Linked DNA regions of Homo sapiens. The protein of the gene in region 4 interacts with the protein of the main gene of each other region in a pairwise test. Each region holds a gene or a part of one and is shown on either strand. Other genes may lie near its edges. The genes, in order: UTP3, ZBTB47, VAX1 and DVL3.

What was found.
Region 1: the proteins of DVL3 (region 4) and UTP3 interact in binary tests that used the Homo sapiens proteins (3 or more experiments, as listed by UniProt).
Region 2: the proteins of DVL3 (region 4) and ZBTB47 interact in binary tests that used the Homo sapiens proteins (3 or more experiments, as listed by UniProt).
Region 3: the proteins of DVL3 (region 4) and VAX1 interact in binary tests that used the Homo sapiens proteins (3 or more experiments, as listed by UniProt).

The regions. Positions count from the first base shown.
Region 1 is NC_000004.12:70,684,034-70,691,070, forward strand, and holds UTP3 (something about silencing protein 10), read left to right. Parts: upstream 1-4,498; 5' UTR 4,499-4,644; coding exon 4,645-6,084; 3' UTR 6,085-6,518; downstream 6,519-7,037. UniProt on the Homo sapiens protein: Essential for gene silencing: has a role in the structure of silenced chromatin. Plays a role in the developing brain. Part of the small subunit (SSU) processome, first precursor of the small eukaryotic ribosomal subunit.
Region 2 is NC_000003.12:42,656,690-42,663,713, forward strand, and holds part of ZBTB47 (zinc finger and BTB domain-containing protein 47), read left to right. Parts: intron 1-1,585; coding exon of another isoform or gene 1,586-1,666; coding exon 1,667-3,139; intron 3,140-4,795; coding exon 4,796-4,943; intron 4,944-6,322; coding exon 6,323-6,438; intron 6,439-7,024. UniProt on the Homo sapiens protein: May be involved in transcriptional regulation.
Region 3 is NC_000010.11:117,135,269-117,142,184, reverse strand, and holds the start of VAX1 (ventral anterior homeobox 1), read left to right. Parts: upstream 1-3,914; 5' UTR 3,915-4,128; coding exon 4,129-4,369; intron 4,370-5,525; coding exon 5,526-5,713; intron 5,714-6,916. UniProt on the Homo sapiens protein: Transcription factor that may function in dorsoventral specification of the forebrain. Required for axon guidance and major tract formation in the developing forebrain.
Region 4 is NC_000003.12:184,151,230-184,158,399, forward strand, and holds the start of DVL3 (segment polarity protein dishevelled homolog DVL-3), read left to right. Parts: upstream 1-4,147; 5' UTR 4,148-4,406; coding exon 4,407-4,567; intron 4,568-7,170. UniProt on the Homo sapiens protein: Involved in the signal transduction pathway mediated by multiple Wnt genes.

The DNA.
Region 1 (7,037 bases), on a different chromosome or scaffold from region 4:
TGTTTGCTCATTTGTTTTTTAATTAAATCTCAGGTGCAGTTAATTATTCTCCTCAGTTCCTGACATTATTATTGGTCTGTGGAAATGTCCTCTTCTATTCCTTTTAATCTCCAACCCTTATCCCATTCTTCATCTTCCACAAACAGCTATTCTTTTGTGTTTAATGTATATTATTTTGTTTGATTATATTCCTACAAAATGTGTATTGTTACATTATTGTGCCTGCATTTTTAATTTTTGTGAATGGTATATTATTTATTACATTCTATTTTTTACTTTTTTCCCTTAGCACATTGTTTTAAAAATCCATTCATGTTGCCATATGGATATATAATCTACTGCTTCCAATTACTATATAGTTAAAATCACTATAAAATGTATCATCTTAGCCAGGCATGGTGGCTCAAGCCTGTAATCCCAGCACTTTGGGAGGACAAGGGGTGGATCACCTGAGGTCAGTAGTTCGAGACCAGCCTGGCCAACATGGTGAAACCCCGTCTCTACTAAAAATACAAAAATCAGCCAGGCGTGGTGGCAGGCACCTGTAATACCAGCTACTCGGGAGGCTGAGGTGGGAGAATTTCTTGACTCTGGGAGGCGGAGGTTGCAGTGAGCTGAGATCGCACCATTGCACTCCAGCCTGGGTGACAACAGTGAAACTCTGTCTCAAAAAAAAAAATTATCATCTTAATCATGAGAGTGAAAGGAGGTGCTATTAATAATTACACTGGGATAACAGGTTAAACAGGGCCATCCAGGGCAAGCCAGAATGTATGATCACCCTATGCTCCTAAATTCCATGCTGTTCTTCCACAACATTTTATTGATCTGCTCTTCCAGTGACGGATATCCAGGTTGTCTCTAACTCGCTGCTACCAAAAATAACTTTTCAAATAGCTTCGCACAGGTCCCCTTATGGATGGGCTTATGTGAGAATTTCTTAACCAAAAAGATATCTGCAATGATTTATAAATTTCTGATACAGGTAATTCTGAACACCCAGAAGATTGGTAAAGTGACAAATGAGAATAAAGCATAGTAGAGTACTTAGCTTAGCATTGAAGGTTTTTGTAGTAATGAAAGGTATGACTGGAAAGGTTGTTTTGGGGTAAAACTTTAGGACAGCCATGTATGCTGTAAATTTTGTTAGTAAACGAAAGTTTTTACTATCTGGATAGTAAATGAAAGTTTCTGAACCAGGATATGCGGTGACAGAAATGATATTCTAGGAAGATATATCTGATGTACCAGATCAAATGTACCAGAGACTAAAAGGAGGAGACCTATTAAAGGAAAAGTTGAAAGCCAGTATAGTATAGTAGTTAGTTATAGCACAACATGGATTCTGAAGCTGGACTGTTCTAGTTTAAATCTAGTTCTAACACTTATTAGCTTTATGACCTCACTTAAGCTATATGCGCCTAATTTTCTCATCTCCAATTACAGATTATTATAGTAACTTTTCACAGGGTTATAATGGTTTCAAGAGCTTGTAATGGTATCTAGCACACAATAACCACTCTCAATGTTAGCTATTATTAATTATAATTGTTTCAATAGTCCAGGAAGAAATAAAGATTAGTTTAAGCTAATGTGATCATACAATACCTCCAACACCCAGAATAAATGCCCTGAAAGAAGTATCCTAATGTATCATCACCTAATGTGTCATTCATAGACTCCCTAATTTCCATAGTAAGAAAATCCCATAAAGGGCTTAGAGTAAGGCAAAAACAATTTTTTTTTAACCTGCTGGCTCTCATTAGTGTAACTTGCTAACTCCTGAGCCAGACATCACAATAAAATAAAGATTCAGATTGGCTGGGTGCGATGGCTCACACCTGCAATCCCAGCACTTTGGGAGGCTGAGGTGGGCAGATCACCTGAGGTCAGGAGTTTGAGACCAGCCTGGCTAACATGGTGAAACCCCATCTCTACTAAAAAAAAAAAAAAAAAAAACACACAAAAAAATTACCCAGGTGTGGTGGCAGGTGCCTGTAATCCCAGCTACGTGGGAGGCTGAGGCAGGAGAATCAATTGTTCTTTATCAAAAGGATCTGAAAAACTGGGTGAAGCGGCACGCACCTTTAGTCCCAGCTACTCAGGAGGCTGAGGCAGGAGATCACTTAAGCCCAGGAGTTCTACCCAGCCTGGGGAACACAGCAGGCACCTGTCTCTAAAAACAAAGGATCTGAGAATGTTAGAATACGATACTCTCTGAATATGCATTGAATACTGCAACTCTGTTCTGGTTAGGAAATTTAACATTTAGTATAAACTAAATAATATTAATGTGATCATTCCCATTTAAAATATCCAAAATATTTTTCTAACTTATATATAATAGTATATGCATTTTAGTCTTGAAGTCTGACACTAAATTCTCAAATAATTTGCAATAAAAATGAAAAATTTTTATTTATGTGCCTAAATGCAACAGTGTTTAAATAATGAAAATTTAACATTTAAAGTAAGGAAATAACTACAATTCCAGCATAGATGTCATATTCTTTAAGCAATATTCCCAAAACAGCAATCTAAAGGTTATCTCTTATCCTTCTGTTCTCTTACAGCACCGGGTTTACATCATACACTGCCTTGTATTCCAGTAATCTGTATGAGTGTCTTCTTTTCTACCTGATTATACAGTCCTTAACTGGCTGATTCATCACTATTGTCTGTAGCATTCTACAACAAACAGTAAGCAGTTAATATCTGCTAAATGACAAAATGTACTAAAATTTACATTAAAAAATAAATTCATGCTTACCATCAGAACATAACTTTTGCCCACAACTTTCTAATTTAATTTTATTTTCTAAAATCTTGTAAAAATTTCAAAATGTTTCGGACACCTTTAGGCACTTGGAAAATGTTTATTTCAAAGTATCACTTTTCTAACATTTTGCATTATTTTTATTAACCTAATGACACTATACTTTCTGAAAAGAAATTGTCACCATTGGCTGGGCGCGGTGACTCACGCCTGTAATCAATCCCAGCACTTTGGGAGGCCGAGGCGGGCGTATCACGAGGTCAGGAGATGGAGACCATCCTGGCCAACATGATGAAACCCCGTCTCTACTAAAAATACAAAAATTAGCTGGGAGTGGTGGCGCGTGCCTGTAATGCCAGCTACTCGGGAGGCTGAGGGAGGAGAATCACTTGAACCAGGGGGTCGGAGGTTGCAGTGGGCCGAGATTGCCACTGCACTCCAGCCTGGCAACAGAGCGAGCCTCCGTCTCAAAAAAAAAAAAAGAAAAAAAGAAAAAGAAAAAAGAAACAAAAAACAAAAGAAAAAGAAATTGTCACCATTAATTTTATTTTATTTATTTATTTATTTATTTTGAGACAGAGTCTCTGTCTGTCGCCCAGGCTAGAGTGCAGTGGTGCGATATCGGCTTACTGCCACCTCCGCCTCCCGGGTTCAAGTGATTCTCCTGCCTCAACCTCCCGAGTAGCTGGGATTACAGGTACCCGCCACCACGCCCCGCTAATTTTTTGTATTTGTAGTAGAGACTGGGTTTCCCCATGTTGGCCAGGCTGGTTTTGCACTCCTGACCTCAAGTGATCCACCCACTTCGGCCTCCCAAAGTGCTTAGGATTATGGGCATGAGCCACCGCGCCCAGCCATGTCACCATTAATTTTAGCAACGTATCAAAAGTTCAGCTTCCAACTACCTACATTAAAAGGTATAATAATACTAACCCTGAACCTTACATATGTAATGCCTAAAAACTTACACCCTGAATTACTCTAACATTACAGGGCAGACTTCCTTGAGAAGAGTCAGACCCTGCAGCGGGGCTCTGCCTTCCCACTGTCAGCCTCGGGGTCATCTAGCTTTATCGATCCCCATGGAGCGGGTCACCGAGCCCTGTGAGCAGGGAGAGGGCGATGGGGATGAGTAAACCCGAGCCGGAGGCCCGGCCTGCGCTCTCGCCCGGAAACCTCCCGTGGGATTCTGGAGTCCAGCGGCGCTGCCTGAGGCTGTGGTACCCAGAAATATGGTATTGGGGGTGGGGGTGAAATGAGAGGAAAGCAATCTGATTAACTTCCAGCCTGATAAGCAGAAAAGAGAAAACAAGGGAGCAGGAAAACTACGCTAGCACTAGACTGCCGGTCGCAAGCGCCGGGTACACACGCAGTTAAACCTCAATGGAACGCCCCCGGGACTTCTCCGGGGCGTAAAGCGCAGCGCCCTCTATTGGCCATCGGGACCTCGCCTGGAGGTGCCGTCAGGATTCCGTCCCCCAGCCACTCCCAGGCACTCGAGAGTAAGCGCATTAGCCCGAGAAAGCGTTCTGTGGAACGGAACTTCCTTATCCTATCGTTTCCACACGGAAAGATTTTAATTCACCGGAATCGACTGGCGTTAAAGGGCACAGTGAAAAGGAAGTTGGTATCAACGTGATCTCGACTAAGGGACCGAGCGGAAGTCCTCAATCGTACGCCACGCGGAGAGCATGCTGGGGGCCGGAAGGAAGAGGAAATTCCAGTAGCCGATCAGGAGTCTGCAAACTCCGGTGGTAGGGGAGCGCGCTGCTGTTTAGAGCCACGAGTTACCGGAGCGCCTGATTCCTGCGCCGAAGTCAGTGGTGGCCGAAAGTCCGGAGTCGCTGTAAAACCTGAGATTGTGAGCCATGGTGGGGAGATCCCGGCGGCGCGGAGCAGCTAAGTGGGCAGCTGTGCGAGCCAAGGCAGGTCCCACGCTCACCGACGAAAATGGAGATGATTTAGGATTGCCACCCTCACCAGGGGACACCAGCTACTACCAAGATCAGGTAGATGACTTTCATGAGGCACGATCCCGGGCCGCCTTAGCTAAGGGCTGGAATGAAGTACAGAGTGGAGACGAGGAGGATGGCGAGGAGGAGGAGGAGGAGGTGCTAGCCCTAGATATGGACGATGAGGACGACGAAGATGGAGGGAATGCGGGGGAGGAGGAGGAGGAGGAGAATGCCGATGATGATGGTGGGAGCTCCGTGCAAAGTGAAGCTGAGGCCTCTGTGGATCCCAGTTTGTCGTGGGGTCAGAGGAAAAAACTTTACTATGACACGGACTATGGTTCCAAGTCCCGAGGCCGGCAGAGTCAACAGGAGGCAGAGGAGGAGGAAAGAGAGGAGGAGGAGGAGGCACAGATCATTCAGCGGCGCCTAGCCCAAGCGCTGCAAGAGGATGATTTTGGTGTCGCCTGGGTTGAGGCCTTTGCAAAACCAGTGCCTCAGGTAGATGAGGCTGAGACACGGGTCGTGAAGGATTTGGCTAAAGTTTCAGTGAAAGAGAAGCTGAAAATGTTGCGAAAGGAATCACCAGAACTCTTGGAGCTGATAGAAGACCTGAAAGTCAAGTTGACAGAGGTTAAGGATGAGCTGGAGCCATTGTTAGAGTTGGTGGAACAAGGGATCATTCCACCCGGAAAAGGAAGCCAATACTTGAGGACCAAGTACAACCTCTACTTGAATTATTGCTCGAACATCAGTTTTTATTTGATCCTGAAAGCTAGGAGAGTCCCAGCACATGGACATCCTGTCATAGAAAGGCTTGTTACCTACCGAAATTTGATCAACAAGCTGTCCGTTGTGGATCAGAAGCTGTCCTCAGAAATTCGTCATCTGTTGACACTTAAGGATGATGCTGTAAAGAAAGAACTGATTCCAAAAGCAAAATCCACCAAGCCCAAACCAAAGTCTGTTTCAAAGACTTCTGCTGCTGCCTGTGCTGTTACAGATCTTTCTGATGATTCTGATTTTGATGAAAAAGCAAAACTGAAGTACTATAAAGAAATAGAAGACAGGCAAAAGCTAAAGAGAAAGAAAGAAGAAAATAGCACTGAAGAACAGGCTCTTGAAGATCAAAATGCAAAGAGAGCTATTACCTATCAAATTGCTAAAAATAGGGGACTTACTCCTAGGAGAAAGAAGATTGATCGCAATCCCAGAGTGAAACACAGAGAGAAGTTCAGAAGAGCCAAAATTAGAAGAAGAGGCCAGGTTCGTGAAGTTCGTAAAGAAGAGCAACGTTATAGTGGTGAATTATCTGGCATTCGTGCAGGAGTTAAAAAGAGCATTAAGCTTAAATGAAGTTTTTGCTTAGCATAAGGTTTTTGGCAGTTTTGGATCAATAAATTTTTACTTTTAACTAAAGTCATTGTATTAATATATAATACTTTAAATTTTAAAAATTCTTGTCCACAAGGAAATTTGTCTGGGTTATTGGACAATTTATAAGAACTATGGGAGCAATATGAAGGTGCTTGAGAAAAGAGATGATGTTGAAGTTTTCCAATATTCTGTTGAAGTTTTCCAATATTAAGTATTAGCTTAGGGAAATTTCACAGTTCATTGTGGAGTGTTAAACTTAGAACATGTGTAACTTTTCACATAAAGAGAATGCATCTTTGACAGTTATCTTATTTGTAAGGCAGCCTATAAAATAGTTCTGAAGTATTTTATTTACCTAACTATAATTATTGGGCCAGATACTTGTTAATAAATGGGCTTAATGTTAACATGGATTTCATATGTTCTGTGTGGTTTAAAAGCATAGGAATGAAACTTTGGTTAAAAGCAGAAAAAGGAAAAGATATGCCTTAATTACATCAATTGTCAATATTTTCTCATAGTTCTTCATGTGGCAAATAAGGTAAAAATCCCATTTCCCCTTCTTTACTGGTGATTTGCAGTGGTTGCTGCTTGTACTTGCACTCCATTTGCTAAAACTTTGATATGATTACTACCAGGTAAGTGGTAACTTTAAGTGGCAACAAAGTTCCATTTTTCTTTTTTTTTTTTTTCGAGATTGAAGTCTCACTCTGTAGCCCAGGCTGGAGTGCAGTGGCAGGATCTCTCAGCTCACTGCAACCTCCACCTCCCGGGTTCAAGCGATTCTCCTGCCTCAGCCTCCTGAGTAGCTGGGATTACAGGTGCTTGCCACCACGCCCAGCTAATTTTTGTATTGCTAGTTGAGACAGGGTTTCACCATTTTGGCCAGGCTGGTCTCGACCTCCTGACCTCAAGTGATCTGCCCGCCTCGG
Region 2 (7,024 bases), about 140 Mb from region 4:
GAGACAGGTGGCCCCTGGTGGCTCAGGGAGGCTCCTGCTGAGGCCCACGGTAGGTTTCTCATTCAGGTGACTGAGAAGTGGAGCTCAACCACCACCACCCCTGCCCAATCCCAGCCTACCCACTGCTCTCCTGGCGATGGAAGGCCTGGCATGGGGAAGGGGGGCGGTAGGCTGTGGATGGATGGGGCCAGGATTCATCCCAGGGTCCCCAGGGAGGCACTGACAGCTATGGAGCTGATGGTTTTGTGGCCATCAAAATATTGTGGCAAGGTACCTCCCGAATGCAGGAGGCTCAGACCTGGTTGGGCAGGCCCTGAGGAGAGCCAGAACTTGGAACCAGTGGTGCTGGTCCAGCTGGGCTGGTGGTTGGTGGATATTAACAACATCTGCACATCACTGTGTGATGGTTCTCGTGCAGGGACTGGGCAGGCTGCCTGTCTGTGCTGCCCACCTTTTGGGGAGGCTGCTGTGGTAGAGCCGGGGTGACTGAGTTGGCTTCTATTCCAGGCAATTCACAGGTGCTGGATGTGGCCCACAGGCCTGATAGTCTGACCCATCAGACATTGAGGGCCTCCGCTAGGGCTCTGGAAGCCCCAGATGGTGTGGCCTCTAAGGCAGGGCTTTCCCAGAGCCTGTGGACATGGACCGTACCTGACCTGGGGTCTGGGGGTCTACCGGGAAAAGGATCTGGGGCAGGCCTTGGGGGCCTCCTGCCTGCAAGCATGGTAGGCAGGTTCCACAGCTGTGTCCTTCCACCCCTGCAGAGCCCCTGAGTGAGAGAGAGCTGCTGGGGGCTAGGCCTGAGGCTGCAGGCAGGGGTTGGGGGCAGCCTGGCCCAAGCCCTGGCTGTGATGAGGAGACCTCACCAGGCAGTGCAGCAGGACCAGAGTGGGGAGAAGGTATAGGCCCTGAGCCTGGATTTCTTCACAGGTTTCAACTTCTGCAGCAGCCACATGGCTGTTGCGATGAGGGGTTCCCTCAGGTGCTACCCCTTGGATTCTGTAGCCAGAGACTGGGCAGTGAGCAGTGAGCCCGGCTTCTGTTCTTGAGGTGTTTGGGGCTGGGCAAGCTTGCTTTTATTGGTATGTGTGAGTGAATATGTGGAGAGAATCCACGGGGCTGAGGAAATGCTGAAGGAATGCCTGTGGCCCTCCTGGGGTGACCACCTGGTCCCGGTGTGCCTGCGATGGTCCTGGTTCTAGCACTGAAAGCCCTGCACCCCAGAAAATGCCCAGGTCCCTGGCAAACCTGGATGGTTGGTCACTGTGGTCTCTCTTTCATCCCCTTTCCTTCCCTTTCCCTTCCTGGGATGACTTTTCCCATTTCCCAGGAGATGACCCAGAGGCCCAGAAAGTGACAGGACCTGATCTTCAGCCTCAGAGGGTCACGAGTGGAGCCTGAGCTCTGAGGCAGCTCACTCAGGCTTGAATCCCTTCCTTGCTAGTTTCGGCTCTGTTGCTGTAAAGTGGAGCCACGAGTGATGGGCTGCCTCCTGGATGGCTGGCAATGCTGGGAGTGGTGCTGGGGGAAGGGCGGGCAGGGGCCCACTGGCCTTGACCCACTCCTGTGCCCTCTGTCCCCGCAGTTGCTGGTTGAGAAGACAACTGACTCCCCGGCGGCTGAGTTCTCGCTGGTGGAGGACGTGGCGCTGCACTTTGCCTGCTTGATGGGCCGCCTGAACGAGCAGCGCCTCTTCCAGCCTGACCTCTGCGACGTGGACTTGGTGCTGGTGCCCCAGCGCAGCGTCTTTCCGGCACACAAGGGTGTGCTAGCCGCCTACAGCCAGTTCTTCCACTCACTCTTCACCCAGAACAAGCAGCTGCAGCGTGTGGAGCTGTCCCTGGAGGCACTGGCACCTGGTGGCCTGCAGCAGATCCTCAACTTCATCTATACGTCCAAGCTGCTGGTCAACGCGGCCAACGTCCACGAGGTGCTCAGCGCCGCCTCATTGCTGCAGATGGCTGACATCGCTGCGTCCTGCCAAGAGCTGCTGGACGCCCGCTCTCTAGGCCCACCAGGTCCGGGCACTGTGGCCCTGGCCCAGCCGGCTGCCAGCTGCACTCCAGCTGCGCCGCCCTACTACTGTGACATCAAGCAGGAGGCCGACACCCCAGGCCTGCCCAAGATCTATGCCCGCGAGGGCCCTGACCCTTACTCGGTGCGTGTTGAGGACGGGGCAGGGACTGCTGGTGGCACAGTGCCTGCCACCATTGGGCCAGCCCAGCCCTTCTTTAAGGAGGAGAAGGAGGGTGGTGTCGAGGAGGCCGGTGGGCCCCCAGCCAGCTTGTGCAAGCTGGAGGGTGGAGAAGAGTTGGAGGAAGAGCTTGGGGGTTCTGGCACCTACAGCCGCAGGGAGCAATCCCAGATCATCGTGGAGGTGAACCTCAACAACCAGACACTGCACGTGTCCACGGGGCCAGAGGGGAAGCCAGGTGCCGGGCCAAGCCCAGCCACCGTGGTTCTGGGCCGGGAGGACGGGCTGCAGAGACACTCGGACGAGGAGGAGGAGGACGACGAGGAGGAGGAGGAGGAAGAAGAGGAAGAGGAAGGTGGTGGCAGTGGACGGGAGGAGGAGGAGGAGGAAGAGGGTGGCAGTCAGGGAGAAGAGGAAGAAGAGGAGGAGGACGGGCACAGTGAGCAGGAAGAGGAAGAGGAGGAGGAAGAGGAGGAAGGGCCTAGTGAGCAGGATCAAGAGAGCTCTGAGGAGGAGGAGGGGGAGGAGGGGGAGGCTGGGGGCAAGCAGGGGCCACGGGGAAGCCGAAGCAGCCGGGCAGACCCCCCTCCCCACAGTCACATGGCCACACGGTCCCGGGAGAACGCCCGGCGCCGGGGTACCCCTGAACCTGAAGAAGCTGGGCGGCGGGGTGGGAAGAGGCCAAAGCCACCCCCTGGAGTGGCCTCTGCATCGGCCCGAGGGCCGCCAGCCACTGATGGGCTGGGGGCCAAGGTGAAGCTGGAGGAGAAGCAGCACCATCCATGCCAGAAGTGCCCACGAGTTTTCAACAACCGCTGGTACCTGGAGAAACACATGAATGTGACCCACAGCCGCATGCAGATCTGCGACCAGTGCGGCAAGCGCTTCCTGCTGGAGAGCGAGCTGCTGCTGCACAGGCAGACAGACTGCGAGCGCAACATCCAGGTGGGCCTCACGTGGCTGGGGGCAGGGCAGAGGCTGTCCAGGTGGGGCTAGGCCATAACTGGGCTCTGGGCACCTAGTGTCTTGCTGACTGCATTACCTAGGTGGTCTGCGGAGACCAGACTTAGCCCCCAGACAGGCTGGCCCAGGCCCAGTTCTCAGGGTGGTTAGAGCTCAGGGGTAACATCAAGCCGAGCTTCCTGGGAGAGGTGGATAGAGTTGGGCGCATGAAGAGATGTGCAGAGGATTGGAACAAACAGTACCCTTGGCCAGAGGGACAAAGGGGACACATGGACTTGGGAGGATGAGAGTGGAGAGTTGTCTGAGCAGACAAGGCCAGAAGACAGGCCACTCTGGGTGGGATGAGTCAGACGGGGTTTTAACAAACACGGGGGCTGTAGGAAGGCCAGCAGGGCCACTGTGTATAGTTTCACAGGTTGTGCACTGCAGCAAGTGAGCACACGATGGGAGGAGGGGTTTGCCCAGAGGGATGCCATCCTCCACTTCCCACAAAAGTGCTGTATGGAGGAGGGGGCAGCCCAGCAGGAGGCAGCCCCCACTTTCAGCTCTTTGGGGATGCCAGCTCCCATGGGCCTGGGAAAAAGGGATTGGGTGAGAAATTTGGGAAGAGCAGAGGCTGCTGGGGTAAGCAGGGGAGCTGAGCTGGCTGCTGGGCCTTGAGCCAGCCTGAGTCTGTTTGTGCCAGCCTCACTTCTCAGGGTGGGGTGGCACAGGGCCAGCCAGGCTCCCACGGGTGGTTTTCACCTCTTCTGGCCCAGGAGAAGGGGGAAAGGTAGCAGGTAGGTGGGTGCTAATTGCCTGCGCTAATTGCTAATTGCAGTGCCCTGTGGAGAAAGTGTTACCCGGGGGTCACCTGCTATCCTGCCCCACCCTTGTGTACCTGTGCCCACTTGCCCGCCTGCTGGGCTGCCCTTTGATGCTCTAACTGCTGCGCACCTGAGTCTCCCTCCTGAAGGAAAAAGAAGCTTCTGCCCCATCCAACCTGAGTACCCTGACCAATTTCTGCCCAAGCCTTGGCCTAGCCTCCATCCCTGTGGGGTGTCCTGCATAGATGGGCAGGACAAGGGTCCAGGAGAACAAATGGGGGGATATGGTCCCCAAGATCCCCCACCACTCTCTGTGCCTGATGGGACCTTGAGCCTCCTGCTGTCCTCCTCAGCCAACGCCTCTGGGACTCATCCTCTTGGCGATATTCATGGTGTCATGGCACAGGTCCCAGCAGGAGGAGGCAGCAGTGATAATGGCTCACTCTGTGGGACCTGTTATCTCTGCGTGTAGCCTCCATACCAGAGGGCGCCCTTCAGCTAGTTGTCTGCCTTACCTCTATAGACAGACAAAGGGTGATGCCTTTGGAAGCCCTTGTTGAAATGAGCCCAGAGTGGGGAATTTCCTGGAAGAGGTGACCCCTGACCCTAGTTAACTCAAGGATGAAGGAGGACACCAGGCTGTGTGTTTGGGGGTGTTTAAGGAGTTTTCATCCCCAACCTTAGAAACATCAGAGCTGGCTGGCTGTTGGCATCAAGGGCTCTCCAGCATATTTCAAGTGGGAAAACTGAGGCCAGACGGGGGCAGTAGCTTGCCCAAGTCCAAGACCCTGGGGACTCAGGACCCAGGGCCTCAAGTCCTCTTATTCTGCAGTGTGTGACATGTGGCAAAGCTTTCAAGAAGCTTTGGTCCCTCCATGAGCATAACAAGATTGTGCACGGCTACGCAGAGAAGAAGTTCTCATGCGAGATCTGTGAGAAGAAGTTCTACACCATGGCCCACGTGCGTAAGCACATGGTTGGTAAGTCTGGGCCACTGGGGGATGGAGCCAGAGGATAGAGATGGACCAGCTTCTGGCTGGTGGATGGGAAAGACTTCACATCCAAGGGCAATGTGAAGGGGTGAGGAGGCCCCTCTCAGCTAGGAGGCCTGGGGAGGTTGGTTCCAGTGGCAGGTGTAGCCTGGACAGGCTCTGGGGCCAGGGCTGGCATGTACAGTTGGGCAGGCTGCACATTGCACAAGGGTGCCTGGACAAGATGGCAGGTGGGAACCGGAATCAAGCTGGCACACTGCTAACCAGGCTGTGCATCCTGGCACGGGCTCGTGTCCACCCAGGGAAAAGAATACCTTTTCCTAATTATACAAAGTGCTGTATGGGCTGGTACAGGCCCTGTGTCAGTTTGATGACAGCTGTGCCTCTGATTCTTTCTTACCTTCTGGTCCTCATAGGGCTTCAGGCCTCTCTGAATGCAGCCTCCCCTCAGGGTTCATGCCTGGACACAGTAAGGAGGTCCCCCAATTGTGTGTTTTGGCCACGCCACTGCCCCAGGCAAGGCTGCCCACCTGCTGTATGTGGGCCTGGCAGAGCCTCATGTCCCTACAGCCCTGCCTTCCTTGCCCGCTCCAAGTCTGGGCCTTGAGGGGGAGGGGTAGCCAAGGCAGACAGTGAGCCCCTGGCCAGGTCCTAATCCCTTTCTCCATGAGACAGTGCTGGGGGCCCTCCAGCATGAACTGACTGGAAGCTGGGACCCTGCGGCCTAGGTCTCAGCCAGGAGCATGCTGGGTAAACCAGGACTGGTGTCTGTGAGCTTGAAGGTGAGCCTTCTGTCTCCAGTGGCCACCTACCAGATCCTTGAAGAGTTTGTTAGTCCTCACCCATCCGTGGGTGCTGGGAGGAGTGCAGCTAACTTCCTCCAGACTGCTGGCTAGGGCCTGAGACCAGGGCCTTTCTGCATATGTCCCCTCTAAAGCCCACCACCCCTGAAGCTCAGGACCACTATGAGTCCCTTTTTATAGGAGAGGAAGCGGAGGTCCAGAGAGACTGAGTGGGAAGCCAGTGGTCGGGCCGGGATTTGAGCTGAAGCCAGGTCCACCCAGGGTCCTTCCATCCTTCCCTGAAGCTTTGGGGGCAAGGCAGCCTTGGCCACTTCCCTTGACCAGAGGCTAAAGAACCACAGAGCCCCAGCATGTCTGAGGCAGACCTTCAGAGCAGATAGGAGACCCAGCCATGGAGGCAGGGGGCCTCTCCTGGGAATCAGCACAGGTCCTGGGACAGAGTATAAGGCCAGCCCCAGAGAAGGGTGGTGGCACAGGGCTGCCCCAGGAGGCAGGGTCTGGGCCCAACGTCGGGGTGCTTGGGCAGGCCCGTAAAACATGATGGCCCTGGTGCCCACCTCGTAGCCCACACCAAGGACATGCCCTTCACCTGCGAGACCTGCGGAAAGTCCTTCAAGCGCAGCATGTCCCTCAAGGTGCACTCACTGCAGCACTCAGGGGAGAAGCCGTTCAGATGTGAGGTGAGCTTCCATCTCCTGCCTGGCCTGCCCGAGGGGTCACCTGGGAGGGGCAGGAATCAGGGAGCGCAGCTGCTGAAAAACAAAGGGCTAGGGGGTGGAATGTAGTGTCCAGAAAGAGAGAGCCCTGCCCTCTGAGGTCTGCAGCCCCTGCCTCCCACTCCCACCCAGCCCCTACTCTTCTCTGGCCCACTCCCATCCTGCCCTTCCTTCCCCAACCCAGCCCCACACACTCAGGGTGGGAAGTGTGTGTGGGCTACAGCCCTAGGAGCAGGCTTTCTGGGGAGGCAGATTCAGGAGCATCCCAGGCCTGGAGCTCAGATGAGACAACAGAGCTGCAGGTGGGGAGGTGGGGGCAGGGGCTGGGCGTCTGATCAGGAGGAAGGATGAGGGACCTCGTGCCTTAAGCATGGGGCTCCCTCTACTCTCTGGCTTTTTCCCACTTCCGACCCCCATTCCCCACCTAAGCCTTGGGTGCTTGTGGCCTCTCCTCTTGTGCCCATGTACTGCCCACCCAGATGCACCTCGGCTTGCCCTCATGTCCCCATCTCCTTGCCCAGGAGCCCCTGAGTGTGTCCCTCCTTGGCCC
Region 3 (6,916 bases), on a different chromosome or scaffold from region 4:
AGATCCTTTGGTGAGCCAGCTAGAAATGCAAATTCCTGGACACTGCTCTCAGATGATCATTCTGTAAGTTTGAAACCCAGGAAATGATTTTTTACTCACCCCCAATCAGCTAGTAGATGAGTGATAAACTCCTAATAAATGCTCATGGCCAGAAATAAATAGCATCATCAGAAACAAGAATTTCATGATTCCATTTCTACTTACTGTTGTTTAGATAAAATTTGTGAAAATTGATGTCTAATAATAAGGATTCCTCGCATTAACATTAAAGTCATTGCTCTGTGTCTTTTTGATACACACATGATCACCTGAAGATTTGGAAAATTCAAAGCAAGTATGGGTTTGGAACTAAAAATGGGGCAGTCTTGTGGGGTGTGGCAAAGAAGAGCATAAATAGCTTTGAAGTCAGGCAGAAGTCAATTCAAATTCTGCTCATACCAGTCTGTGTGACTTGGGCAAGTTACTGAACGTCTCTCTGAGTCTCCATTCTTTCACCTATAAAACCGGAATATTACTACATCTCTGAAGGAGGAGTTCAGATTAAGTGAGTTTATGCATCCAGTAAGTGACTGCTTCATAAATAATTCCCCTGGACACGTTGGCTCACGTCTGTACTCCCAGCTACTCAGGAGGTTGAGGTGGGAGGATCGCTTGAGCCTGGGAATTCGAGGCTACAGTGAGCCGTGATGGTGCTACTGCACTCCAGCCTGGGCGACAGAGCGAGAACCTGTCTCAAAAATAAGTAAGTTTAAAAAACAAACAAACAGGCTGGGCTTTGTGGCTCATGTCTGTAATCCCAGCACTTTGGGAGGCCAAGGCGGGCGGATCACGAGGTCAAGAGATCGAGACCATCCTGGCCAACATGGTGAAACCCTGTCTCCAATAAAAACACAAAAATTAGCTGGGCGTGGTGGCGCGCGCCTGTAGTCCCAGCTACTCAGGTGGCTGAGGCAGGAGAATCTCTTGAACTCGGGAGGCGAAGGTTGTAGTGAGCGTAGATCGCGCCATTGCACTCCAGCCTGGCGACAGAGTGAGACTCCGTCTCAGACAAACAACAAACAAACAAACAAATAGTTCCCCCTTACAACAAAATATGCCACAAGATGAGGGAGGGCAGAAATTTCCGAGGCCAAACTTAAAATTTGCATTTGGGATTTGGCCATACTTTGGCCGTTCTCTGTGGCAGTGAATGCGGCTGCAGACGTCCCAGCGCCGCCATTGCCCACAGGGCGTGTCATTTCTAAGGGCAGCTGTTTGTTCCCTGACTGCCCCCGCCCCGCCCCCCAGCTCCCCCATCTACCTAAAAGAAAATGTAATGGGTTGGGCCATTTTTATTTTTTAAAAAGCTTTCTTCCAGGTCTTTGACCGGGCGCCGCAGGTGTCCGCATGGGTTTCCCAGGCCGCTGCGGCCTTCACCGACAGAAGGAGGCCGTACAGAGGGGTGCGGCCGGGCCGGGGACCCAGAGCCATCTGGGTCCCATTTGGGCCAAGGCTGCGGTTTGGGACTTCCGCCGCCTGCAGGGCTCCTAAAGGGCTGAGGAAGGCCTAGAATCCTCCTGCGCACCCGATCTCGCGTAGTCCGAGGGTCCGACCCCTCCAACCCCTCCAGGGTAGGGGGCAAGGAAGGGCCGGTGTGCCAGGGAATTCGGTCGCACCCCTCCCTGCCCAAGGAGGCCCAGGAGCTCCCTCGGGCCGAGCTCTGCAGGGAAGTGAATGCCCCATCTGCTGCAGGGACCCCCATCAGGAGGACCCGAATCCCAGGGACCCGCACCCGCGACGCGGTAGTGGGAGTCAAGACCCGGCGGCTGCACCCCCGACGGCTTGGCCGCATGGGAGCAAAGCCCTCGGTGCCTCAAGGCGCCAGTCTGGGCTTTTGAGCGTTGCGGGAGGTAACAGGAGAGTTCGCCGGATTTTAACACAATCCCACTCTACATCTTCAGAACAGGGTGGCCGCAAAGTCCCTTACCCCTCTTACCCGTCTCTGCTCCCACCCGCCTCACCAACCCGCCGGAGCAGAGCTCGTAATCAAAGGCACTTTCCCCGGGCGCCCAGTCGGCGTCGGACTTCGAGGGCAGCGTGCGCAGCGAAGCCGGGCTGAGGGGCGATCAGCCCGCTGGGGACCCTGGAAACCCGCCGCCCTGCGGAGAGTAGCTCGGGACAGTTCCACCGCTCCGCCCAGTCAACTAAAGTGGAAGCCTGATGTCGGCCTGCAGGGCCAGAGATGCCCTCCGGAGCTGGGCCAAACCTGGGTGCCCCTAAGTGGCTGGAGGGGTGGCTGGGTGGACAGCGCGAAAGACCCCGCTCAGGGGGCCCCCTCCTGGCTTGGGACGGTAGAGGGGTCCCGCGGGGTGGCGGCGGAGGCAGGGGAGGTGGCGGCGGGGCGGGAGGTGCGGACGGTGCGCGCGTCGCTGCGAGCTGGAGCCCCTAGGGGCCCGCCACACACACTCGCACCCCTCCCCCTCCCGGCCTTCCTCCCACCCGCTCGCCGCGACCCCCTCCCCAACCCCCTCCCCTCCCCCCGCCTCCGCCCCATTCTTGGAATTGTGTGGAAAAATTCTCAGCCAAACCTCCCACCTCTCCTCTCCCCCCACCCACCCCCTTTAAAAAACCCCTTTCCTCCCCGGCCCCTGCACTCTTTGTGAATGAGGGCAGGGAACACGGCCCTTCCCCCGCCCAGGAGCCACGCCAGACCGCCGCACTCAGAGGACTGTTTGTTAATAGTCCAATTAGATAATTGCCATCTTTCACTCCTTTTGCTCCGCATTTCCCATAAAGGAATGAATGGGGAGAGCGGCGTGGAGAGGGCTTCTGCCCCGGCAAGGTGACGAGAAGGGCTGGAGCATGCTCCTTGCACAAGGCCATGCGCTTGAATTGAATCATTGTAGCCTAATCAATGCTCTTATTGGATTACTGGCTGTTGCTTTTCTCAAAGATATTGTAGCAGAGACAATGAAATAGCTAGGGGAAAACTTTTTTTTTTTTTTTTTGAAGCAGATCTCACAGTTGAGATTTCTCGGCCGTCTCTCCCTCTCCCCCTCTCTCTCCTGCTGGACTCTGAGTACAAAGCTGCCCTTTGAATGGGCTGCCTCAGGGCTGCTGGAGGTGCAGGCATGAAAAAATCCAACTGGAACTAAATGAAGAGAGGTGGCAGTTTAAGATGGCTGTCTGCGTCGAGGTGTGTTAAGAAGGAGTTGTTTAGGGGAAAATCTTGGCTTTTTTAGAGTGCAAGGGAGATACTTTTTGGGAAAACTTTCTCCCCCCGCTCTGTCCCCCATCCCCCACTCCCAGACAACTGCTTTCTTCTGCCGCAGGGTGCGCAGGGTTTTTTTTTTCTCCCCCCACACCCCCCCGCCGCCCAACCCTCATTCAGCTCTATCTGGCGAGTGTGGAGAAAACCCCTCTAGCCAGTATGTGAGCAGGAGGGTCAAAGGCAAAAGGAAAGTTAATAATGCCTGCTAATGGTACTAACAATTCAGGATGAATCTTGTCAAAAGTTTTTCTGGAAGTGTGGGTCTTTGATTGTGTGTTTCCTGAAAGCAAGACCAATCATTTCCGTTTATTCACTGGCTAAACCCCTACTTGATTGGGGACAAGGACAGAAACCATCCATTACGATCTGATATATTATCCAAACAATTTAGTGTATTCATGAGGTAACCGAAACGTGGGGGCTGCGAAATTACCCGTAATCAATTGCAACAGCGAGTGTGCGTCCCCCCGGGTGTCGGACAACTACAACTCGCCGTCTCAGAAACAGGCGGGAGCCGCAGCATTTCGGAGTTGCGCTGTTCGCTACCTGATCGCCAGGCTGGGGACACTGGACGTGCTCAGAGGACGCGGGTGCTGACGAGGCGGCCTCGCCGCAGCTCCACCAGGATCCTGGACCAGACTGGCCGCCTCTCGGCGAGCGCGCCACTCTCCCGTCGCCGCTGACCCGCGCGCGGCCGCCGAAGCCTCCCCGCGGGGACATTCATTCTTGCCCCTTGCCTGTCGCCGGGCCGGGCGTACGGGCCGCGTTGTCGGGGGTTTTGTCCCCTTTTTCCTCTTTTTTTTTTCCTTCTCCGCCCCCCCCCCTTTTTTTTTTTTTTGCTTTTTTTTTCCTTTCTGTTTTTGTTGTTGTTCTTGCCTATGTTCGGGAAACCAGACAAAATGGACGTTCGATGCCACTCGGACGCCGAGGCTGCCCGGGTCTCGAAGAACGCGCACAAGGAGAGTCGGGAGAGCAAGGGCGCGGAGGGGAACCTCCCAGCCGCCTTCCTCAAGGAGCCGCAGGGCGCCTTCTCAGCGTCGGGCGCTGCTGAGGATTGTAACAAAAGTAAATCCAATTCCGCAGCGGACCCGGATTACTGCCGCCGGATCCTGGTCCGAGGTAGGGATGGGCAGGGCTGCCAGGCGCGTTCTTTGGGGTCGACTCCGGGGCCGGAGCTGCGCGCTGCCGCCGACACAGGCCGGTGGGAAGGAGTGCCGGCTGGGACTTGGGAGAAAGTTGTTGGCCCTCCCCGCCCCGAGTCCGGCTGGGGACAAGCGCCTGGGACTCTCCGGTGCGCTCTCCAGGGGCCTCGGCCCTCCACGCCCGGAGGGGCCCCGCTGACCGGGCTGCGGGGGGAGATGAGGGGCTGCGCGGGTGCGGCCGGGCATCGGGCTGCGGCCTCCGACCCGGGAAAGGAGCAGAAAACTCCGGGAGGAGGTGTGCGCGCTCCAAGGGCCGGACGACCTGCCGGGAGCCGGCCAGGGGACTCCCGCGCTCTGGAGGGCTGAGCGCACCCAAGGGGGAACGCGAGCCCCGGAGAACAGCTGCCGATCGCGGGCTACGGCCCTGCCAGTTAGTGCACTGGGCCGAGGACCCCACGGCCGCGATCGGTGCCCGACCGCTGCCGCCGGGAGAGGCAGCTGGGCTTGGTTACGGAGCCGCGGTTGCCGCTTTGGTGCTCTGCTCTGCCGCTCTCGGATGGCGCGGCGTGCACTTAGCCCCGGCGGCGGAGGCTGCGAGGCCGGGCCCCGGCCCGGCGCCGCCCCAGCCAGCAGCAGATCTCCGGGCCCGGCCGGCCCCGACTCAGTCCCTCCTCCTTCCGCCGCGCGGACTCCGGAGGGAAGGAGACTCGAGGGTGGGGGTGGGGACGTCTGGATCACGGTCTGGTCGGCAAGCCCAGAGCTGGGGCCCGCAGGACCCGGGCGGGGCGACAAGGGTACCCTCAGGCTACAGGGGACCCGGAAGGCTCAGCCGAGGCCCCCCCAGGCCGGAAGAAACGTCCGCCTATGTGGAATTGATTGGATTTTTTTCTCTCCCCTGTCTGGAGGACTCTACAAAAAGACAAAGTGTGGTCCCTCCTTCGGTCAGCGGTATGGAGTTAGGCCCCTTGCCCTCCACACAGTGTCTTTGCTACCTGGTTGTGGTCGCGCTCCGCACCCCGCCCCCCATCCCCAAAACTGCACGCTTCTGGGGACTGTGTCCCCAAATCCAGCTCGGGCCAAGGAGGTGGAGGGGGACGGGAGGGTTCTGGCGGCTGACATCTCCCCTTCCCCAGATGCCAAGGGGTCCATCCGAGAGATCATCCTGCCCAAGGGCCTGGACTTGGACCGGCCTAAGAGGACGCGCACGTCCTTCACCGCGGAGCAGCTCTATCGGCTGGAGATGGAGTTCCAGCGCTGCCAGTACGTGGTGGGCCGCGAGAGGACCGAGCTCGCCCGGCAGCTTAACCTCTCCGAGACCCAGGTACCCGGCGACCAGGCCGCACACAGTTCTGCACCAGCCTTCCTCCCCACCACCCCTACCTAGCCTGCTCTTCACCTCCTAACCTGCTCTGGACAGAACTACCCTTGGGAGGTGGAGGAGATGGGAAGGATGGGTAAGACAGGCCTAAGGATTCCTTCCCCTAGATAATACATCCTTTCCCCCCACCATTCCTGCCATCCCCAAATCCTCCAGGGCCCATGTTTTATCCACCTTGGCCTAGGCCCAGAAGGCCCCAAATCCTGTCCTTTTGGAATTTTTATTGTCCCCCGGTTTTGAGCATTTCCTTCGAGCTTCTGCTCTACAAAGAACTGACTTTTGCCCTTGTTTGGGGTACCCCATTTTGGCTAGATTTCTAGGCCCCACCCCTTGTGGGCCCACCCAGCTGTACTCAGCGTCCAGGCCCATTCTACAGGAGTGAGGCTAGATCTAACACCCCCTGCCCCAGCACCATGGGTGATTCCCAGGAATTAGGTGTACGCCCTCCTGGAGATCTGCCTGTGCAGATCAGGCTGCCCTGACCCTTAAAGGAAGGCTTTCCCCATTCTGAGCTGGCCCCAGCCCTGAGCACCTAGGAGACCCTGTCTTCTGGGCCAGTGATGTGTGAGGTGTGTGATGGGAAGGAGATCTAGGACCCAGAAGCCAGTACTGCTGATTGTGCTTTAGATCTTTCCCTTTACATTAAATCCATATGATGCCCCTTGGAGCTGGCCATGTGGGCTCTGGGCCCAGGAGAGGACCCAAGAACTTGCCAAGTGGCATGTCACCAGCTTGGCCTAGCTACGGCAGCCTTCTTTCTGAAGACTGATCCTTTTCCCCATGCCCAACCCTGAAGCAGGTGGAGAGCATTTTAGGTCCGGGATCTGGGCTGAAAGCTGAGGACTGACAGAACAGATAGGGGTGTTCTTTTTGAGTTTGAGTTGGTATGGTAGCTTTTTCTATTCTCTCTGCTACTACTCCTCTTAGTTTATAAAATCTAGATAGGATAGTCTTTGCCTATTGCTGCAAAACTCTTCTGGGCCACTGCTAGGCCTGCAGAGGGGCAGAAGAATGAGAGGGGAGGTTAGTGGGGAATATTCAATCCACCTCAGCCTCCTGACTTTCTCCCATGATTCCAAGTTCATGACTCAGACCAGTGGAGAGATAAACTAAGAGTATCACCAGACCCTTCAATGCAGCTATCTG
Region 4 (7,170 bases):
GTCACCCAGGCTGGAGTGCAGTGGCGTTGGGATTACAGGCATGGACCTGGTCTTAATTCAAGAATTTATTGTTGGCTGGGTACGGTGGTTCACACCTATAATCCCAGCACTTCGATAGGATCGCTTGAGCCAAGGAGTTTGAGGCTGCAGTGAGCCATGATTACCTCACTATACTCCAACCTGAGCAACAGAGCAAGGCCTTGTCTCAATAAACAGGTAAATAAAACAAAGGAGTAAAGTATCCAGGAAACAGATTCAACACAGAGACAGGTAAAGGGAATTTTGAGGATGCAGAGAAGTCCCAGGATGACAGCTGTGCACAGGCTGAGATAGCCGGCGGTGCAGACCAGAGCAAAAGAATGGAAGGTTCCACCAAGCGTGGTGGCTCACGCCTGTAATCCCAGCACTTTGAGAGGCTAAGGCGAGCGATCACCTGAGGTCAGGAGTTCCAGATCAGCCTGGCTAACATGGTGAGACCCTGTCTCTACTAAAAATACAATATTAGCTGGGCGTGGTGGCAGGCGCCTGTAATCCCAGCTACTTGGGAGGCTGAGGCAGGAGAATCACTTGAACCTGGGAGGCAGAGGTTGCAGTGAGCCGGAATCTCGCCACTGCACTCCAGCCTGGGCGACAGAGTGAGACTCCATCTAAAAAAAAAAAAAAAAAAAGATGGAAGCCTCCAGGGAAAAATTGAACTGATGGATTATCTAATAGCTTTGACTGAATGAACAAAATGTGTATTGAGAAACTATTAGATTACATGGGAAAAACTAATGATAGGTATAATATATTAAAACAAATGAAAACACAAGGCAATGATTAAAGTCAGAGGAAACAAAAAAGTTGTAAAGGAAACGATTATAAAACACACATGAGGCCAGCGCGGTGGCTCATGCCTGTAATCACAGCACTTTGGGAGGCCAAGGCAGGTGGATCACGAGGTCAAGAGATTGAGACCATCCTGGCCAACATGGTAAAACCCTGTCTCTACTAAAAATACAAAAATGAGTTGGGCAGGTATGGTGGCACATGCCTGTAATCCCAGCTACTCGGAGGCTGAGGCAGAATTATCGCTTGAACCCGGGAGGTGGAGGTTGCAATGAGCTGAGATCACATCACTGCACTCCAGCCTGGCGACAGAGTGAGACTCCATCAAAAACAAAAACAAAAACAAAACAAAAAAAACTCCACATGACTTAGCGGTGAACATTTGCTCATAGTCAAAATAAGGTCACTACTAAGTACTATATTGACTTAGCCAAAAAGTGTGCTTTCACTATTTTAAGAGGGAAGGGTAAGGTGGAAGACAGAGAATCATCAATCAAATTTGGAAATCAATAAGCAATGTCTAAAATGTATAAATCAAGAACAAGTATTATGAGCTAAAAAAAAGTACTAAGAGTGGTAGGGAAATAGGACAAAGAATTGCTCGGGTTTTTTGTTTTGTTTTTCTCACCACTATACCAATAAGGAGGACTGCTGTTTTGTTAAAAAGCTTTTTAAGGGCCAGGCACGGTGGCTCACACCTGTAATCCCAGCACTTTGGGAGGCCGAGGCAGGCAGATCACGAGATCAGGAGATCGAGACCATCCTGGCTAACACGGTGAAACCCCATCTCTACTACAAATGTAAAAAATTAGCCAGGTGTGGTGGCAGGCACCTGTAGTCCCAGCTACTCGGGAGGCTGAGGCAGGAGAATGGCATGAACCCGGGAGGCGGAGTTCACAGTGAGCCAAGATCGTGCCACTGCACTCCAGCCTGGGCGACAGAGCAACACTCCATCTCAAAAAAAAAAAAAAAAAAAAAAAAAAAAAAAAAAAGCCGGGCGTGGTGGCTTGCGCCTGTAGTCCCAGCACTTTGGGAGGCCGAGGCAGGTGGATCACGAGTTCAGATCAAGACCATCCTGTTTAACACAGTGAAACCCCGTCTCTACTAAAAAAAACACAAAAAATTTGGCGGGCGCCTGTGGTCCCAGCTGCTCGGGAGGCTGGCGTGAACTCAAGAGGCGGAGCTTGCAGTGAGCCGAGATTGTGCCACTGCACTCCACCCTGGGCGACAGAGTGAGACTCCATCTCAAAAAAAAAAAAAAAAAAAAAAAAAAAAAGCTGTTTAAATACTATTTGACTTCCAAACATATTACTTTGATAAAAAATGTAAAGAAGGTGAAGGAAAGGGTATGAAGTGACGATATACATAAGGTGTGTGCAGGGGCTAGCAAGTGGGTTCATTTTCCTGGAGTCAAAAATTTGGCCAGGATATGAGACAAAAGGCTGTAAAAGTAGGTAGAGGTTAGATTATGGGGGGCCTTGAATAGGGATATTTGGGGGCTTTGGGGAATGTGGAAAGGTTTCTGAGTAGAAGAGGTATCTGAATGATGTTGTTATTCTAGTGTTAATTTGGCAACAGTGTATAAAATGGAGTAGAAGGAGCCCATACTTAAGACCATAGCATCCAAGGCCCTATGTAATCTGGCGGGTCTATGTTTCCAGCCTCACCTAGGACTGTTCCTTTAGTCATGATGGCCTTCTTATTCCTCAAATGTAACATGTTTATTCCTGCCTTGAGCCTGTATATTGGCTGTGCCCTCTGCCTAGAAGGCTGTCACCCCAGATCTTCTCATAGCCACTTCATCCTTGCTATTTCTAGGTCTTTTTTTCTGGAAGAAGTTTTCTCTAACCAATCAGAAACCTCTTTCTCGTTTTGTTTTGGTTGTTTTGTTTTTGTTTTTGTTTGAGGCGGAGTCTCGCTCTGTCGCCCAGGCTGGAGTGCAGTGGTGGGATCTCGGCTCACTGCAAGCTCCACCTCCCGGGTTCAAGCGATTCTCCTGCCTCAGCCTCCCGAGTAGCTGGGACTACAGGCATGCGCCACCATGTCCAGCTAATTTTTGTATTTTTACTAGAGACGGGGTTTCACCATTTTGGCCAGGCTGGTCTCGAACTCCTAACCTCAGGTGATCCACCTGCCTCAGCCTCCCAAAATGTTGGAATTACAGGCATGAGCCATTGCGCCTGGCTTCCCCTGTCACTATCCCATCACTTTGTTTTACCTTCTTCATAGCAGTGGTCACTCTGAAGTTATGTATTTACAAGCCTATGTGCTTCCCTCCAGCTGAGGGAAGGTCCTGAGAGCAGCCTTGTCTGTCTCGCTATCGCTATATCTCATGCGATATGCCTTATACACAGTAGGCCTTCAGTATTTATTAAATGAATTAAAAGTTAAGGGGTGAGGAGATCTGTGAGGAACCGGCTATACCTAGTTCTGGAGTTCTGGTTTGAGACTTACTGTCTTAGGCATGCATGCATCCACTTATCTTTTTTTTTGGGGGGGGGCGAGGGGGGATGGAGTTTCACTTTTGTTGCCCAGGCTGGAGTGCAAAGGCAGGATCTCGACTCACCGATCTCGGCTCACCGCAACCTCCGCCGCCCGTGTTCAAGCGATTCTTCTGCCTCAGCCTCCCGAGTAGCTGAGATTACATGCATGCGCCACCACGCCCGGCTAATTTTTTTGTATTTTTAGTAGAGACAGGGTTTCTCCATGTTGGTCAGGCTGGTCTTGAACTCTCGACCTCGGGCGATCCGCCCGCCTTGGCCTCCCAAAGTGCTGGGATTAGAAGCGTGAGCCACCGCGCCCGGGCCCCACTTATTCCGCATTCAACCCATTTATTAAACCACTACCTTGCAACTGGACGCTAAGGTTATAGGGAGGAATCAGAACTGGATGCTGTCCTTCTCTCGAGATCAGTTTAGTAGACTCAGTGACAGCAGTTGTGCTTCTCAAGAAACACTGAAGGGCCATGTTGAGGTCATTCTCCTCCAGGGATCCAGAGTCAGACCCACCCTCTTTCCCCAGACCATTTCTGGGGACCAAAGCAATCCCTGCATTCCACTCTTCCTGGACTGCAGAGGAGTCGCCGATCCCACTTGGGTCCGGAGTCAGGGCCTTCAGGGGTCCGGGAACGCCGCCATCCCGGTGAATCTCCCCTTCCGTTTCTAGGGACCCGGGACCGGAGCGCCGCGGCCCGGCCAGTGGGCGGGAAACCCTGCCATCTGCCGCGACGCCGGCGCCTCTCCGCGGCGGCCGGGGGCGGGGCGCGCCGGGGCGGGGCCGCGCCGGGCCGGAGGAGGGGAGCGGGCCCGGACGAAGCCCTGGGCCGGGAGGGCCGCGGCCACCGGAAGAGTCGCGGTCGCCAGTCCAGTCGGGAGAGTGGGGAGCGGAAGCGGCGGCCGCGGCGGCGGCGGGCGGCGCTGGGACCCGGTAGCGGCCGGAGAACAAGGGAGCTGGCGCCGCCAGCAGCCGCCGAGCTGGGTTGAGCCGCTGGGCCGCGCCGCGCGCCGCCGCCGTCTGGGAGGCTCGGCCCGGCCGCCCGAGCAGGCCGCGCGCGGGCCGCCGGGCCCGAGGCCAGAGCCATGGGCGAGACCAAGATCATCTACCACTTGGATGGGCAGGAGACGCCGTACCTTGTGAAGCTGCCCCTGCCCGCCGAGCGCGTCACCTTGGCGGACTTTAAGGGCGTTTTGCAGCGACCCAGCTATAAGTTCTTCTTCAAGTCTATGGACGACGATTTCGGGTGAGGATGGCCCCCGCCCCGCCTCCGGGAGCCCCGGCCGCTCTGGCTTCTAAGGGATGACGCGGTCCGTTTCGACTTGCCTCGCTACACCGGCTCCTAGCCCCGCTCTGACTTCTAGGGGCGACTCGGCCCATTTGGGCCCCTTTGGTTCCAGCCCCAGTAGCAACTCCCGTTTACCTCTGAAGAGGGGACGTTGGCCTCCCTTGTTTAAGGGGACGTCCAATTCCCCACTAGCAATCAGAGTTCCTGCCGGTGCGGTCCCCTTACCTCTTCAGAGACCAGTGGCCCACAGAGACAGACACACCCCCCCTCCACCTAGTTTCAGAGCCCGAGTCCCCCATCCTCCTCCTGCCGAGGAGCCAGAGCCACCTTTTTCCGCACAGACTTGGGTCGTGTGGCCCTCGTTCTTCGCCCCCTTCATCTTTTCAGCAGCACAGCTCCCAGCCATATTTGGAGTATGCTGCATCTGAGGGCTCTGCTGGGACTTTGAGCTGGGGGAGGGGTGTCGGGGGTGCTCGGGCGCCTGGCCGCGAGCGGGGTCTGCAGATCTGATGTTTATCTAGCTGCCTGCCCTCTCCTTTGTGGGCTGTTGTGGGTGTTGTCACCGGAACAGAGAGCCTGACCCCTGCGGAGTAGTCCTCACTGACCCAGGTGCTGATCTTTCCTCCAATTCGGGCTTTTTTCCTCCAGTTGGTGGCCAGTGGAGAGACGTTAGGAAGGGCCTGGGGCCTGGGTGGGATAGCCAGGAAGAGTTTCTTGGTGTTCTCTATCTTCCCCTCCCTGGTGGGGTCTTCCCTTCCACCCAGCTGCAGAGATCTGGACAGGCACAGTTTGGAAGCAGTCACTTTCCCTTTAAGAGGGGATGGAATGTTGGAGCCGGAAGGTTCTGAAGCAGCTGGCCTGGGAAGAGGGGGGCCTGGCTGATCCCCCTCGAACCCCCCCAACTCCCAGGAGACTGGGGGAGGGGGAGGCGCCCACACTTGCCTGCCGCCTCACTAACTGGGCGCTGGGCCTGGAGGCGGTGGGGAAGGCCCCTCCAGGCCTGAAGGCTGCCTCTCCAGCCCTAGCCTGAGGCCTGCACTGCTCTTTGGAGCTGAGGCCCCACAGCCAAGAGGAGACATTCTTCTCCCCAGTGTTCATCTGTCTGGCTTCTCTCCCAAGCCCCTGGCCCACCTAGCACTAGGAAGCAAGCACCTTCTGTCTAATGCCTGGCATGTTTTGCTGTCACCTTCTGCCCTGGAACTCAGGGTTGGATGAGCCCCTGAAATCATGTGTGTGAGAGTGCTTTGTACAGTGGGCAGTGCTTTGTAGATTCTAACTATTCTTGTTTCTGTTGTTGTTCCTGCCCTGGGGTGGGGTGCTCCTGGTGTGATAATGATTGTCTGCCTTCAGCCCAGAGACAGACACCTCTAATTGGAAGATTCTGAGGAGGGATGGATCTAGAAGGGGTCTGGGTGAGGGGGTGGATACTTTGGCCTGGCAAGAGAAGAATAGGGTTAGAAGGGATCAAGCTACTGCCTCCACATAAGGAATGGGGGAAGATGAGCCAGAGTCCAGTGCCCTGGGGCCACCTCAGATCCAGATGCCTTGAGGGACTAAGATAGGCTGTCTCTCCACCCTGTACTTATCTCCAGACCCACTGGACCTGGCCCCTGCCTCCTAAGCCTGGACAACTCTGGGCTGCTCTCCCAATCCCAAGGCCTAACTGCAGTTTTAAGAGGGCCCCCATTACATCCAGTCACTGTTACTTAATATTTTTCTTTAAATCCATTGTCAGTCCACTTACTGTTTTTCTTAGCTTGAACCAAGCAATAATATGAAACCATAGGTCTGACTTTTCTGTTTATATTTCTTTCTAAAATATGTTTAACATAAATATTTAATGATTGAACTAAGCAATGTTAATCTGTGTGCCACCTGAAGCCATCTTGCAAACATCAGTGGTACTTGAACCAAAATCAGAGTTGGACCATTTTAGCAGGGTTGAAAACAGTATTAAAAATGAAGTGGAGGAGATGGATTCTGTTTGTATCCCCAGAAGGATAAATGAGCAGGGGAACTGATAGAGCTGTCTTGTCACAGAGGACTAATAGCTGAAGAGCATATATATATGTTTCATTTATTTAACACACGCCTTTTATGCTTAGTGTGCCAGGGACTAATCTAAATGCTTTTCAAATCTTCACTCATTTAATCTTCGAAACAGCCTTATGAAATAGATAGCGTAATAGTATCTCTAGTTTACAAATGAAACTCTGTCAGGCATGGTGGCTCACACCTGTAATCTCAGCAATTTGGGAGGCTGAGGTGGGAGGATTGCTTGAGGCCAGGAATCTGAGACCAGCCTTGGCAACATAGCAAGACCCCATCTCTACAAAAAAATTTTTTAATTAGCCAGGCATGATGCTTTGTGCCTGTAGTCCCAACTTGGGAGGCTGAGACAGGAGGATCACTTGAGCATAGGAGTTTGGGGCTGCAGTGAGCTGTGATGGTGCCACTGTACTCCAGCCTGGAAAATAGAGTGGGACCGTGTTTCAGAAAAAAAAAAAAAAGGAAACTAGAGCACAGAAAGCTTAAGTAACTTGCCTAAGGTCACACAGCTA